Regions from separate parts of the Homo sapiens genome. Here region 1 is linked to region 2. Evidence: fine-mapped expression QTL. A gene starts in region 2. The other region holds a variant in brackets. All regions are shown on one strand. Distances are from middle to middle. Region 1 overlaps LINC01934 (long intergenic non-protein coding RNA 1934). Region 2 holds the start of ITGA4 (integrin subunit alpha 4).

Region 1 (4,399 bases), 220 kb before region 2:
GGAGGACATTGAGTATTCCCTAAGCCTTAGTTTCTCTTTAACAAAATGATTATGGTAAATAAATCTTGTAATACTTAAATGAGATCAGATGAGAAAGGAGTATAATGTTCTTTTAAAAATGCTTTGTAAATATTAGTTTATTATGAGTAAAGGTAAAATGCTGCTTTTGAAGGACAGTTTCATCTTGTGATTTTAAGATTGAACTTAAAAAAAAAAAAGACTAAACTGACTACCAGTTCCTAGCCAGGCAAAGTTACCTAAATTGGGGGAATTTATTTGGGGAAATAAATTTTGGTGCCTTGGCTTTCTTATCTGTATAACTGAGATGACAGTAATATATGACCTCACAGAGTTTTTGCTGAGATGCAGTGAGATGGTCTGGATCCAACACTTGAGTACAGTTCCTGCCACGGAATGATGATTTGGCTGCTATTGTTATATTTTAATACAAGGGTAAATAGGAGTCTTTCTTTTGTGTTTTGCACTGTTGGCGATTCTGGAATGGTTTACTAATATTTTTACTTTAATCCTGGAGTTATACAGTGATACCTTCTAACACACAGCTGGCACTTTGGAGAGATTACAATGACAAAAAATAAAAGATGGGGACAGACCCTTGAAAAGGGAATGGAAGAATAGTTCTAGGTTTTATTTTGTCTTGTTTTAAAAGATATTTCTATTGCTAAATTAACTTTATTTTTAAAAGCATGGATTAAAGAAGTATTAGTAAACGATAAAAGAAAATGCACAGGTGTGAGGGTTTTGAGCCTGAGCTCATAGTCTCCCCCCTGTCAAACATAACTGTCTATGGACATTGAATAAATCATTTAATATCATTGGCTCCAAAAGAGATGGATAAACAAGATTTGTGCTTCTCAAGCTTGACCACATATTAGAATAACCAGGAGTACTTTTGCAAAACAGTATATCTGGCTCCACCGGGTCCACCTCAGAGCAATTGAATTATAATTTCTCTGGTGAAGAACCAGTCTGCAAGCTCATCAGTTGTTTAGGGTACACAGTGAGGGTTATGGACCACCTGACTGGGTGATCATTAGGGTCTCTTCCAGCTCTGAAATCTTGTATATCTGTACATATCTTTTTACTACAGTCACATACATAAAAAGTACTTCTTAAAATGAAAACATATGTGGCATATTTAGAGAAGGTAAAGGAATTTGATTTAAGCTATTGGCTTCTGGAAATAAGCAAGTGATTTTCTTGAAGCTTATTGTAAACTATCAACCTCTCTTGCCTTAAGCGAGATGTAATGATTATACTTCAACCTACAGGCTGTATATTTGACTCAGCTATCCCCTTTTCAGTTTATCTCTGTTTTTTATGTGAAGAGTTCTGCCATTTTAGTAGCATGGATCTAATGGAGGCAAAATTCTTAATGCGATATTTAAAAACCATAAATAAGGCCTCACTTATGGACTACAGGAAGTGAGAAAATATTTCCAGAGAGGGATTTTCTCACCCACTGATCTTAGCATAAAGCATCAGCCTGAAAAAATGTTTTTTTAAATAGAAATATTCAATGATAAACACCAATAATTTCCATTTATATCATTAAAACGATGGAAGGAACATATGGCTACGATTAGAAGAATGAACGTTAGTTATGAGGCTGCATTTGCAAGAGACATTAATTAGAACTGAGAGTACCTCAAGTACTTGACTCAGGAAACAAATTGGTTTAATAAGCTGCATGGTCTGCAGATGCCCTTCCCTCTTCTTTTTCCGTGATTCC[A/G]AATAAAGCAGTTTTATCTGTGCAGAGCTAAGTACACTTGAGGAGTCACATGATTTTGTGCTTCACTTCATTTATGTTTGGAAGCAAGTTGACATGACCCTCATATGGGTAAGGTATCTCTTACAGCAATATACATCCAGGTGAGGGCATAGTCATGTTAAATCAGGATCAGATTTTAAACTTTCTATTCAGAGACTTGCCCTTAAAGAGAACTCCATTCATTTGAATACTACAATTGAGTTGCTGATGTGCTGTCTCAACTCCTGGAGACGCTCTGCTCTGGGGTGTACTTGAGTGGAGGACACTCCACATGCCCTGTCTTGTGCTTGTATCAGCTCCTGCTGCTTCCTTTGATCAGCAGTTGATAAAATCTCCCCTGAGGTTTGTGTAGCTGATGAAAGCCATGTATCTGGGATAAGCCTTTGGAATTTGATTTTTGGCATTATCATAATGTTAATATCCATTAGTACATTTTACAACATAAGCACAAGGCCTTAGATGCAGGGAATTCTCTGGTGAATACCAACTGGGGCAGCTGACATGTGGGTTATGTGGAACCCTCAAAAGCATATACTGTATCACTTTCTTAAGCTAAGAGAGCTGTAATGACTCTCTTGGGACAAATAAACATTTTGTGTGGAATCTCCACTTGCTTAATTGCTAGCCTTGAGTTTTAGAGTCCTTGCTACCCTAAGTAAACTTATTTTAATAAAAGTAAACATTTTCAGCTGTTTTTGGCTCTTGGTGAGGAGGCAAAGGTCAAATGGGAATTGAGGAAGAGCTTGATCACTCAGTAAGGCAACATTTGAAGAGTGAAATAGAAAGGTGGGATATGTAGAGAAGAAGACCAGGGTAAAAGCAAGGTTCTGGAGACAGGCTTCCTGGCTTTTAGCTTACTGCTTGCTTGCTGTAAATCTCAAGGAAGCTACTAAACTCTCTGTGCCTCAGTTTCCTCATCTATAAAATGGGTTTAATGACCAAATGAGTTAATACTTGTGATTAGCATAGTGCCTGCACATCAGAAGCAGTCAATAAGTGTTACTGTTCATAAGCAGAGCCCTGTGCTCGTAGTACCTTTACTATCAAGTGGCTATCTTTCTTTAGAACCAGGTCAATTTTATGAGCCTAATTTAAGATTCTTTTACTTTCCTGAGGCTGGTGCCAAATGGTTTTGTGATGCTAGAGGAGTGTGAACCTCAAATACCAAACCGTCCTTGCTTATAAAGTGTAGAATAATTTAATGCCGCTTATAGGTATGTTGGAGAAAAAAATAAGGACACCCTTGTAAATATTTTCAGCTCCACTGGGTGCAGCAGAATCAGAAGGTGGTATGTATAATAATTCAGCTTATCAGTCAAAACTTCAAAAAAAAATTAACTCCATGACGTGGGACATTTTCTAGTAGATAAATCTTTTACTGTTTAGATCTCCGAATCACAATAAGAAATGCTATTGAAGTATAACTGATTCCCAGATTGTGTCAATACAAGTATTTAGTTTCCGCCATTTATTAAAAACAAAACAAAAACTCGTTCACTTATTTATTTTTAATATACCCCACGTAGTTCCAGAAAGTATTTAATGCCACTGAAAAGCACTTGTTGAATAGGTTCAGAAAACAGGAGTTAGATACTTTTATCATCTTGTGGCTTTCAATATCACCACTTGATAGAAGTCAATAATAGTCTTCTTCCAAGTTACACTTAAACACAGATCTTTGACTGCCACATGTATTACTCATTAAAATCCAATAGAAACAAAATAAAAAACTGTCTAGGCCACTTGTTAGGGAGTTCAGGATTCAATATCCATATTATTTATTATTATATTATGAATGAACTATACATTGATACCACAGTGGTCATGTTATCATAGTTCTTGACACTTCTTGGAAGGCCCTTCTTTCTGACCCCACCCAATCTTCAGTTCCTCTAATGTGTTTGTGGTTACTTTTCTTATAGCCTAATTGGGTCCTAAAGTAAGAAATGAATGTGTGGTGGTCAGGGAGTTGTTTCCTTTGACACATACTAGGACTTTAGTAAGTGGTGGTGGTGGTGGTGGTCAATGTTCCTTTCATACAGAACATAATAAGCTTGAAGAAAATTGAAGGAGCCCAGGGAGCCTGGGGTATAGTGCTACCATTCAACTAACTGTAAGAACTTGGTCAAGATGCTTGATTCCCTTCAAACTCAGCTCTTAATCTACAAAATGAAGCGAATGAGCTAGTTCCATATTCTCCTTTCTAACTTGCAATTATCTTAAGATACTAGGCATCAGCATAATTGTAGACCTTTTAGCAGTTACAGTATGACCTAAAAAATTTCTTAAAATTGTGTTTAGTTTGCACGTATAACACAAAACCAAAATATTGAGGTTGTAATATATACAGATACCTGACACAGATAATCAAAGCTTTTCATTCTTTTATATCATTTTACTGTCATATTATTATGTGTCCCTTGGCTTCTACCATTTTATTATTCTTGGAGGGAGGTTTATCTATGTATTTATTTACTGCATGAAATGCAGACATATAATTGAGAAGGAATATATTCTTGTCAGGCAAGTTGCTAACATTAACATAAATTAATTCAAGAAATATTTATTCAGTCATCTAGTAAATAGGAATAAAACAATGAATAACAC
Region 2 (4,399 bases):
ATATCCTGTCATTCCATAAACATCTCAAACTCCACATGGCTAAAACTTAACCCATCCATGCCCCCATCTGCATGCACACATACATGCATATAACTTCATTTCTCAGTGTTTTTTTCTCCATGAATGGTAGCACCATTCTCTTTCAAGAAAGAGAAATACTTCCCCTTGGGATTATCCTATCTCTACTTATTGCTGCAGGGGCTTCCAAAATTAGGTTTTCTGTGTTCAGTCTTGCATTCACACTTCTGAAACCCAGAGCTGACCGAGACAAATTCTTCAACTTCCTGTCAGTCCCAACATAGATTTAAAATTCCTAACCTGGCTCATGAGGTTCACCATGTATTCCTGCTTCCCTAAGTCAGCCTCATATCACACCAACCTGTGTGTGGAGTGGCTAAATACTCTAGCCAGGCAAGCTCTCTCAGTTCTTCTACCTGGCTCCTCTGGAGCCCTCCTTATTGCTCATCCCATTCTTAGCCTGATTCAAGATTCCTGGTCCTTCAAATCTCTCTTTAAGTGTCCTTACCTGGATCTTTCTCTAGTTAGTACAAATTTTTCTATCTACCATTGGAGCGAACATTTTTTGAAACTTTGTATCAGTCCTGCCTTACTCTTGGTGGAATCCTGTGGTCCTAGTCAAGTGCCTGCTCCATGAATGTGCTGAATAAATGAATAAGCATTTTAATTGTGTATCTGTCATTAGTGTCAGATGTGTTATTTATTCCAGCATGGTTTTAGCACACAGACACACTCTTTGATGCAGACTTTTCTTTTCTTTTTACATATAGCAACAATAAAAAACTAGACTTTCATCTCCTGAAAATATCAGTCTAATAATCACCTATGGCTGTCTCTCTGGTTGCTGAAGGAAAAAAAAAAAAAAGGCAGGGCACACCTGGATTGCATTAGAATGAGACTCACTACCCAGTTCAGGTGTGTTGCGTTGTGGGTCTCCGGCACATTTCAGAGGCTCATTAGGACCCTGACCCCACACTGGGGTTTACACCCCTAAAAGCAGGTGTGTCCCGTGGCAACTGAGTGGGTGCGTGAAAAGGGGGGATCATCAATTACCAGCTGGAGCAATCCGAATCGGTTAAAGTGAATCAAGTCACAGTGCTTCCTTAACCCAACCTCTCTGTTGGGGTCAGCCACAGCCTAAACCGCCTGCCGTTCAGCCTGAGAGGCTGCTGCTAGCCTGCTCACGCATGCAGCCCGGGCTGCAGAGGAAGTGTGGGGAGGAAGGAAGTGGGTATAGAAGGGTGCTGAGATGTGGGTCTTGAAGAGAATAGCCATAACGTCTTTGTCACTAAAATGTTCCCCAGGGGCCTTCGGCGAGTCTTTTTGTTTGGTTTTTTGTTTTTAATCTGTGGCTCTTGATAATTTATCTAGTGGTTGCCTACACCTGAAAAACAAGACACAGTGTTTAACTATCAACGAAAGAACTGGACGGCTCCCCGCCGCAGTCCCACTCCCCGAGTTTGTGGCTGGCATTTGGGCCACGCCGGGCTGGGCGGTCACAGCGAGGGGCGCGCAGTTTGGGGTCACACAGCTCCGCTTCTAGGCCCCAACCACCGTTAAAAGGGGAAGCCCGTGCCCCATCAGGTCCGCTCTTGCTGAGCCCAGAGCCATCCCGCGCTCTGCGGGCTGGGAGGCCCGGGCCAGGACGCGAGTCCTGCGCAGCCGAGGTTCCCCAGCGCCCCCTGCAGCCGCGCGTAGGCAGAGACGGAGCCCGGCCCTGCGCCTCCGCACCACGCCCGGGACCCCACCCAGCGGCCCGTACCCGGAGAAGCAGCGCGAGCACCCGAAGCTCCCGGCTGGCGGCAGAAACCGGGAGTGGGGCCGGGCGAGTGCGCGGCATCCCAGGCCGGCCCGAACGCTCCGCCCGCGGTGGGCCGACTTCCCCTCCTCTTCCCTCTCTCCTTCCTTTAGCCCGCTGGCGCCGGACACGCTGCGCCTCATCTCTTGGGGCGTTCTTCCCCGTTGGCCAACCGTCGCATCCCGTGCAACTTTGGGGTAGTGGCCGTTTAGTGTTGAATGTTCCCCACCGAGAGCGCATGGCTTGGGAAGCGAGGCGCGAACCCGGCCCCCGAAGGGCCGCCGTCCGGGAGACGGTGATGCTGTTGCTGTGCCTGGGGGTCCCGACCGGCCGCCCCTACAACGTGGACACTGAGAGCGCGCTGCTTTACCAGGGCCCCCACAACACGCTGTTCGGCTACTCGGTCGTGCTGCACAGCCACGGGGCGAACCGATGGTGAGTAGAGTTGGACTGATGCGCCCTCAGCAGCTCAGAGCGGCGTGAGAATGGCGCCCTAGGGATTCCCTGCCCGATTCAAACTTTCCTCCCTCCCAAGGAGGCAGGAGGGAAACGCTGCGAGAGCCAGCTCGCTGGAAATCTGCCAGGGAAACTAACTTATCTTGGGGCGGCAGCGCCCCGGGTGCGTTATGGTGCAAGGTCTTGGAGCTTCGAGTCGGGGGTGGTGGGCGGAGGAGGAGGTGGGGAAGCTGCCCTGCTGCGGACTGCACATCTGTGGCGACAGGGAGCTCAGTGGGCAGCACAGCTCACGTCTGAGCGCACGTGCACGTGTCTCGCTTTAGGCTCCTAGTGGGTGCGCCCACTGCCAACTGGCTCGCCAACGCTTCAGTGATCAATCCCGGGGCGATTTACAGATGCAGGATCGGAAAGAATCCCGGCCAGACGTGCGAACAGCTCCAGCTGGGTGAGTTGGGTATGGGACCAGGAGTTAGTGACCTCCCGACCCCCCATGTGGACCCCACCATAGGGCAAGTCCTGGAAAGATTCACGTTGCCTGTTACTTCTGGTTTAAAGAGCATAAAGTTTTCAGTTTCAACTCCATCTCATCTTGCCTCCTTAATATAAAAGGGATTCCCTTTCTGTTAATATCGTTCTCCCTTTTCCTTATGGCAATGATTGCAGTACTCTGACAACTATGCTAGAGAAATTTCTTATGATACCTTCTCTTCATCTCTCCCCGTCTCTCCGTGTGTAAAGCACATTTTAGACTCTCTCAGCGTATTAAGGACAGGATCCAGCTAAGCCAAGACTTGAGAATTTTATTTCCATCTTTGACCTATCAACCCTCTTAAAGAACAGGCTAAGGAGCATATCAGGAATAGCAATTGGAATTGATCCCATATCCCGTCGTTTAACCTAAAGGCCTAAAAAAAAAAGTGATAGTTTTACTTACAATATACAATCTAAAAGAAAAGGAAAATTGGCATCTTCATCGTTAATGTAGTATAATTTTCCATTCCCAAAACCGTCATCCAAAACTCATGTTATATGGGTCCATCTTTTTGCAGTCATTTCTCAATGTCTCAGATTTGTGACAAGTTGAAAAATGTGTACTGATAGAGGGGAGAAGTTTCATGTTTCAAAGCCAAAGACAAGTTTGTTGCACACAGGCAAGTGGGGAAAGAGGAAGGAATATTAAATAACAAGACCTATCTTGTTCCAAAGTGTTACTGCTATATATATTGCTTAACTTTTTTCCCCTTAAAGCAACCCTGGGTCATGGTTGACATTGTTCCTAGTTTATGTATGAGGACTGTGGCTCAGAGTTGCAAATACCTTTTTAAAAGTTACTTAGCTAGTGACTGATAGGTGGGAACTAAAGTCAAACTAGGGTCTGAATGCGTCCAAAGTCTAAGCCATTTTCTTCCATGTATGTATCTTCAATGCAAATAAAATTAAGTGAATGGTTTAATATGTTGTCTGCTGAGCTGATGGGTCATCTGTAAACGGTGAATAAAATTGGTACTTCTTTATATTTCTTTGCTATAAATGGACTTTTGAGATTAGTTATTGGATCTTTAACTTCTTTTGTATTTTATAGTAGTCTTTGCTCTTTTTCAAACTGTGAAGCTGGTTCCCTTCATTCAGATGAATTCAGATAGAGTATAAACATAATGGAATTTTTACTTTTAACTCAGAGCACCTATAAAAGTCTACGAGTTGTCTGTAGCATGTAGAATAAGCCCTAGCCTCTTGTTAAGCATCCTCAATACCAGAAATCACAGTAGGAATGCATAAAACATTCACAGACCCATACATTTTGGAATGATTTTGCAAAGCATAATTTTCATTGCATGAGAGAGTTGTGGGTGAAGAATTAGGGAGTGGAGCCGACAACTTTGGTCTGCCAGAGGATCTTGGCAAGGTCTCAGGAGGGAGCAATTTTATTTCTGTTGTCCTGTCATAGTTTCCTGATCCATGACATTATAACTACTGATATTTAGTGCCTACTTCCTGTCTGGATGGACACTGAATCTATTTCTGGATGTCTGTGTTTAACTGGATAAATCATGACATAATACTGTATTAAATTTAAGATAATGCCTGTCAATGGAAGGAAAAAATTGTTTGGGCATGTGTAGCATG

Evidence for each region. PIP is the estimated chance that this variant, and not a neighbour inherited with it, causes the effect.
Region 1: its variant is the best candidate, but not a certain one, in a credible set for the expression of ITGA4 in whole blood (Lepik 2017, PIP 0.57).

What each region holds. Positions count from the first base shown.
Region 1 is chr2:181,232,505-181,236,903 of GRCh38, forward strand. The region is part of intron 2 of LINC01934 (long intergenic non-protein coding RNA 1934); the gene reads left to right. Among named protein-coding and RNA genes, the nearest start is that of MIR4437, 71 kb to the right of the region's middle. The variant A/G (reference allele first, on the strand shown) is at 1,754.
Region 2 is chr2:181,455,601-181,459,999 of GRCh38, forward strand. ITGA4 (integrin subunit alpha 4) reads left to right here and starts at 1,786. Exons shown (of 28, transcript NM_000885.6): 1 at 1,786-2,251; 2 at 2,596-2,717. The coding sequence starts at 2,055. RefSeq lists enhancers at 1,293-1,402, 2,123-2,312, 2,373-2,422, 2,783-2,832 and a silencer at 1,583-1,972.